2 linked regions of the Homo sapiens genome follow. The protein of the gene in region 2 purifies or fractionates together with the protein of the main gene of each other region. This does not show direct contact. Each region holds a gene or a part of one and is shown on either strand. Other genes may lie near its edges.

The links.
Region 1: the proteins of ARHGAP32 (region 2) and SHC2 purify together in Homo sapiens (affinity purification with western blotting, with the first as the bait; one study listed by BioGRID). This does not show direct contact.

Annotation. Positions count from the first base shown.
Region 1 is NC_000019.10:454,421-458,033, reverse strand, and holds part of SHC2 (SHC-transforming protein 2), read left to right. Parts: intron 1-3,613. UniProt on the Homo sapiens protein: Signaling adapter that couples activated growth factor receptors to signaling pathway in neurons. Involved in the signal transduction pathways of neurotrophin-activated Trk receptors in cortical neurons.
Region 2 is NC_000011.10:129,185,760-129,189,372, reverse strand, and holds part of ARHGAP32 (rho GTPase-activating protein 32), read left to right. Parts: intron 1-3,613. UniProt on the Homo sapiens protein: GTPase-activating protein (GAP) promoting GTP hydrolysis on RHOA, CDC42 and RAC1 small GTPases. May be involved in the differentiation of neuronal cells during the formation of neurite extensions.

The DNA.
Region 1 (3,613 bases), on a different chromosome or scaffold from region 2:
CTACTTCCGCCTCCCCAAGACCCTCTTCTGCCTCCCCGGGACCGGCTTCCGCCTCCCCAGGACCCGCTTCCGCCTCCCCGGGACCCACTTCCGCCTCCCCCGGGTCTGTGCGGATGCCAGGCCTGGTTGGGTCTGTTTTCCCTGGTGGCATCGGGCCGCCCTCGCCGTCTCCCGGCGGTTTGTCCTACAAGTTTAACGCCGACGGCCGGCGTGTTCCACGGAGGACGCGTGCGCTTCCTTCACACCACATCCATTGGGACCAGTCAGGTGTGGCCATTGGCCGTGGATGTGGGATTTAGAATGTTCAGAATTCAGACGCCAGGGTTGTTGGGGCTCCGGATGTTGGGGGATAACTGCTGCTTTCCGTCACTGCAGGAAATATTTAGCATACGCTTCCCCTGCCCGGCACAGATGATGAGTAGACAATGAGAGACCTCGTTCCTGCTCTCAAGGAGCTTGGATTCCAGTAGGAGAGACAGTCAATCAGAAGAGGACAAACAGATGAGGAAATAGGTTCTGGTAGCGGCTCTGCAGAGCTAAAATCGTGTGATATTAGAGCAGGAGGCTGGGCGGCTGCCCCTCCCAGGAGGCGACCTTGAAGCTGAGACCTGAGCCATGGAAACCCCGGCCGTGGGGTTTGCAGACATAGTTCTAGACGGGGCACAGCAGGTGCAGGTGCAAAGGCCTGATATGGTGGGTTTGCAGACAGAGATCTAGGGGGGGTACAGCAGGTGCAGGTGCAAAGGCCTGATGTGGTGGGGTTTGCAGACAGAGTTCTAGTCGGGGCACAGCAGGTGCAGGTGCAAAGGCCTGATGTGGTGGGGTTTGCAGACAGAGTTCTAGTCGGGGCACAGCAGGTGCTGGTGCAAAGGCCTGATGTGGTGGGGTTTGCAGACAGAGTTCTAGTCGGGGCACAGCAGGTGCAGGTGCAAAGGCCTGATGTGGTGGGGTTTGCAGACAGAGTTCTAGGCGGGGCACAGCAGGTGCAAAGGCCCCACGCGGTGGGTTTACAGACAGAGTTCTAGGCGGGGCACAGCAGCTGCAGGTGCAAAGGCCTGACTGTGGAGTTTACAGACAGAGTTCTAGGGGCGGGGCACAGCAGGTGCAAAGGCCCCACGCAGTGGGTTTACAGACAGAGTTCTAGGCAGGGGCACAGCAGGTGCAAAGGCCCCACGTGGTGGGGATTGCAGACAGAGTTCCAGGCAGGGGCACAGCAGGTGCAAAGGCCCCACGTGGTGGGGATTGCAGACAGAGTTCTAGACGGGGCACAGCAGGTGCAGGTGCAAAGGCCTGACGCGGTGGAGTTTGCAGACAGAGTTCTAGGGGGGGCACAGCAGGTGCAAAGGCCCCACGCAGGGAGCGGACCTGGTGCGTGTGCGTCACGGCAAGGAGAGCCATGAGACTGGAGCTGATGGAGAGGGAGCGGGACTCTCTCTGTGGGCTGTGGTGAGGAGTGGGGGTGGTTTTAAGTAGGGGGTGGCGCAGAGTGTGCAGTTTTGAAAGCCCTTCCAGGGGCCGTGTGGAAGTGTTGCTGAGGGAGGAGGAGGGTCTGGAAGGGCAGCAGAGACCCGGGAGGAGGCTGCGAGGGACGGCGGTGGCCCAGGCCAGGGGACCTAGGTGAGGGGAGAAGTGGACAATGAGCCTGTGTTGGAGCCCGGAGGAGTTGCTGATGGACCAGGGGCCCTGGCCCCCAGGGAGCCTGACCGGCCTCAGCCCCCAGCGCTGTCCCCCAGGAGCCCCGTCTCCCAGCACCTACATCACAGCAGGCACAGGGACAGCCGGTCCCTCCTGGTCACAGGGAAGCTTGAGTTAAGGAGGGGAATAGCCAAGCCCCATCACCCGGGGGCTGCGGCCGGCGGCTCAGGCCCGCAGGGCTCTTCCACACTGGAGGGACCCTGTGCACTGAGGGAAACTGAGGCACAGAGAGGCCGAGCTGTGTCTGAGGTTACGCAGTGAAAAGCAGGACCAGAACCCGGGGCTGAGGGTCCTCCTGCGGGAGCCGGAGAGAACATTCTGAGGGCACTCGTCACGCACGCACCTGTGTGGGGCACAGCAACGGCCCCGTGTCCACATCCACCCTCGGATTCTGTGAAGGTGCCCCTCACACGGCGACAGGGGACCTGCAGGTGGGACCGAGTGAGCAACCCTGAGATGGGATGATTTGGGGGCCCGGTGTCCTCGCAGCAGGGGGTGAGAGTCAGAGAGAGACCGGAAGAGGCTGCGCTGTGGCTGCTAACCGGGAGGAAGGGGCCCCCAGCCAAGGGATGTGGGCCCCTCAGGACGCTGGGAAAGGCGGAGCAGATTGGGAACCAACTCTGCCCACACCTTGATTTTAGACTTCTGAGCTCTAGACATAAGCGGATTAGCTCGCGTTGTTTGGAGCCACTCAATTTGTGGTGATTGGTGATAGCAGCAAGAGGGAGTGGATGGGCCGGGCGACTCAGCCGGCATCGCAGAACCCCCCAGAATCCTGCAGCGATCCCGGTGTGTGGGAGAGAAGTTGGACGCCGGATAATCAGCGGCGTGGGCCCCGCGTCCGAGCGCCGTGGGCAGCATCGGTGCAAATGCAGTACCTCCGGCGCCGAGGCTCACGCCGAGTCCTGCGCGGTGCTGAGTTCCGAGGAGCCCTGGGTTCCATTCTCCCCACAACCCTGCGGCTTCCACCCATTTTATAGATGAGGCAGCTGAGGCACAGCAGGTCAAAGAGCTGCCCGAGAGCCCTTCCCTGGGTCATGGCACTCGCGATGCCTTTAGGGCTGTCACCACAGACCTGACTCGGAGCTGCTGGGCGCCAAAGGGACCTTGATTGTCTCCTGCGAGAAGAACCCGGGGTCGGCGGCTCTGGGGTTGGTTAATTCAGCAGCTCAGTGACTTTGTCATGGGTCCAGGTCATTGTTATTTCACCGAAATTCATGCCAACCTGGAACCCCAAAATGAGGCCTTCTGTGGAACAGGCTCTCTGCAGGTGTCATTAAACAAGGTCACGTTGGATTCAGGTCACCCTGACCCGGTGACTGCCGTCTTTATGAGAAGCTGAGTGAGGGCACAGAGAGAAGGACGCGGGACAGGATGAGAGGGGCAGAGACGAGCGATGCGGCCACGGGCCAAGGATGTCAGGGAGCCCCGGCCACCACCAGCACTGGGAGAGGCAGGACGGGCCTTCCCCTGCTGCCTCCAGAGGGGACGGGCTTCCGGCCCTCAGGCCTGTGTGAGGAAGCATTTCTATGGTCTTTTTTTTTTTTTGAGACAGAGTTTCCCTCTTGTTGCTGAGGCTGGAGTGCCGTGGCGCGATCTCGGCTCACCGCAACCTCCGCCTCCCGGGTTCAAGCGATTCTCCTGCCTCAGCCTCCTGAGTAGCTGGGACTACAGGCGCCCGCCACCATGCTCAGCTAATTTTGTTTGTATTTTCAGTAGAGATGGGGTTTCACCCTGTTGGCCAGGCTGGTCTTGAACTCCTGACCTCAGGTGATCCGCCCGCCTGCGCCTCCCAAAGTGCTGGGATGACAGGTGTGCGCCGTCGCGTCCGGCCCATTTCTGTTGTCTTAAGCCCCGTTTGTGGGGATCTGTTAGGGCAGCCACGGGAGACCGACCGCCTTCCCGGGGCCTCTGCTGG
Region 2 (3,613 bases):
CTATAAAGCAGGTATCATTTTTCCTATTTCCTCGGTGAGGAATTTATGGCTCAGAGAGTCACACAGCCCACATTTGTCATGGTGGAGCAAAATTTTGCAAGTGGTAGCACAAAAATTTGAACCCAGATGTAACTGACTTTGAAAGTGAAGACTTTAATGAAAGATTTTTGGGGCTATCTTCTGCTAAATGCTATTTTCTGCTAAGTGATAACTTATAAGAGGCTACAGCTGATATCTCAAGTTTTGAAATTCCTTTTTTTTGAGGAGGTTATGAGCATCAATGACATATAGATTATGTGACCATCATAAAAATGAAGTAATGAACACAATAATGTGACTTTTAAAAAATGTGACCTCTAGGACACCTAGGAATCATGAAAGGTTCTAGTTCTTTGGCATTTGAAGGTAGAAATGTTTATCATATGATTTTGTTTAGACTTCCCTAATACCACGTTATGGGCTGATAGACAGCCTGGCAAATATGACATATAATTTGAAGCAGCTACAGAGATGATATAGTGCTTAATTGAACCATATTTTTGATCACGATCTGTAGATGCCCAGATCGCTGATCTTCACGTATATCTCCATTATTAAGGCAATTCATTTTAAGTGACGAGAAAGTTCTGACTTTAGTTAAACTGGATGATTTGGTGAACATATTTTAATTGGGGGGGACAATGCCTTTATTGATTTATAGCATTATAGAACTAATGATACTTCATGCACTTGACTCGTTGGTTGGTTGCATTATTCATCCTCTACCTCAGGGGTTCCCAACCCCTGGACCGTGGACCAGTTATCTTATTTGGAAGGATGCCACAAGTTAGAAGCTATTGTGGCAGTCTAAGTAGGTAGTAAGGGTCTTGACTGTGGTATTGTACATCTTCTAGGCTCAAAACAGCTTTGAACTCCCAGGCCCAGGCGATCAGATCAGATCTAGATGATTTCTTTTAATGGCTCATTTCCCCTGGAAGCCCATAAAACAATTTCAAGATTTTCTGTTTTTATTACTCTGCCTGTTCTTTTATCTTCTGCAGAAATTCTTGATTTCAGGCTTCCCAGCCAGTTTTAATGATCCTGGAAGTACAGAGAGGTAGTATTAACAATTAACTGAGGCTGGGCATGGTGGCTCACACCTGTAATCCCAGCACTTTGGGAGGCTGAGGCAGGCAGATCACCTGAGGTCAGGAGTTTGAGATCAGCCTGGCCAACATGGTGAAACCCTGTCTCTACTAAAAATACAAAAATTAGCTGGGTGTGGTGGCGGGTTCCTGTAATCCCAGCTATTTGGGAGGCTGAGGCAGGAGAATTGCTTGAACCTGGGAGGTAGAGATTGCAGTGAGCTGAGATTACGGCACTGCATTCCAGCCTGGGTGACAAAATGAGACTCCATCTCAAAAACAAACAAACCTCAACAAACAAAAAAACCACACAAAAAAACCAAAACAAAAAAACCCAATTAACTGTATGTCCATAAATACCATATCACACCCAGGCCCATTTTATACTGTGTGGCTTTTCAAAGGCACCACATCTTTAATAACCTATTACTTATGATGTCAAAAAAGATGTATATTTTGCCCAAAAAGCTACAACTTATATTGTTTTGTAACCTTGAAGAAACATCTGGGATTTAGTTTAGCCCCTAAAATATTATTTTAAAAAATTATTTTTAATTTTAGGGGGTTCATAGTGGGTATATATTTTTATGGGGTACATGAGATGTTTTGATATAGGCACACAATGTGTAATAATCATATCATGGAAGATGGGGTAACCATCCCCTCATGATGGGATATCCATCCCCTCAAGCATTTACCCTTTGTTTTATAAACAATCCAATTATACTCTTTTAATTATTTTTCAGTGTACAATTAAATTATTATTGACTATAGTCACCCTATTGTGCTATCAAATACTAGGCCTTATTCATTTATTCTAACTACTTTTTGGACCCATTAACTATCCCCACCAGCCTCCCACTATGCCCCCACCACCCTTCCCAGCCTCTGGTAACCATCCTTCTACTCTCTGTGTCCATGAGTTTAATTGTTTTGATTTTTAGATCACACAAATAAGTGAGAACATGTGATGTTTGTCTTTCCGTGCCTGGCTTATTTCACTTAACATAATGACCTCTAGCTCCAACCATGTTGTTGCAAATGACTAAATCTCATTATTTTTTATGACTGAATAGTATTCCATTGGGTATAAGTACCACATTTTCTTTATCCATTCATCCATTGATGGACACTTAGGTTGCTTTCAGATCTTGGCTATTGTGAACAGTGCTGCAACAAATATGGGAGTGCAGATACCTCTTCAGTAGACTGATTTCCTTTCATTTGGGTATATGTCCAACAGTGGGATGGCTAGATCATATGGTAGCTCTATTTTTAGTTTTTTTGAGGAACTTCCAAACTTTTCTTCATAGTAGTTGCCTAATTTACATTCCTGCCAACAATGTGTGAGGGTTCCCATTTCTCCACATTGTTGCCGGCATTTGTTATTGCCTTTCTTTTGGATATAAGCCATTTTAACTGGGGTGAGATGATCTCTCACTGTAGTTTTGATTTGCATTTCTCTGATGATCAGTGATGTTGAGCACTTTTTCCTACGCTTGTTTGCCATTTGTTGCCGTCTTTTGAGAAATGCCTGTTCAAATCTTTTGCCCATTTTTAAATCGGATTATTACATTTTTTCCTATAGAGTTGTTTGGGCTCCTTATATATTCTGGTAATTAATCCCTTTTTGCAAATATTTTCTCCCTTGCTGTGGGTTGTCTCTTCACTTTGTTGATTGTTTTCTTTGCTGTGTAGAAGCTTCTAAAATATTCTTTTAACAGTAAGTATAACATTCACCCAACATACTCTCATCAGTGAATTTAATAGTAATCAGCAAAGTCTGATATGAACATCCCTTAATCTCAGAACATTTTAGGCAGTAATGGAGTCTAGCCATTAGGCTGTCTTCATAATCTGTGAAATGAATCTGTCTTAACCGTGAGGCATGCCAGTACAAGACTTTCTTGGTATTTTAGTAATTAAGCCCTTTGGGATGGAGTCCAAGGTGGGCCTTTCTTGTATCTATCTGTATGAGTATTTTGATGTTCAAGAAAGGCCCTAGAGTACACAAACGATATAGACCTGTATAAAAGTTCCTGGTTATTAGGTTGTTTAATTGAAGTTAAAAAGTTTAAACCCAAACCTAATTTTTCTAACTCTTGCATTTCACTTTGGCACTGAACTCTCTTAAATAGTCAATAGGACTTTCAAAAATAAATTGAAATCCCTGAAACATTTAAAGCTCTATTTATAAATTAGTTAATTTTCTTTTTTTTTAAATTAAATATGTCAAGTGACTAGCTTAGCAAGATGATATTCAGAGCAGGCAAAACCTTCCCAGATACTTAATTTTGGAAGTTGCGCTATACTTTTCTTTACATTAATGATTAGTTTCCATTTCCATGTTCTCATAATCATACATGTATTTTCTCTATTTGAAAATAAAATGATTTCTTTCACCCAGGTTTTCTCTCTCTCTTTCTGTGTATGTATGTTTGTGTTTTAAATCATGGTTCTCTCTTCTCCTCTACTTCTCTTCCTTATAA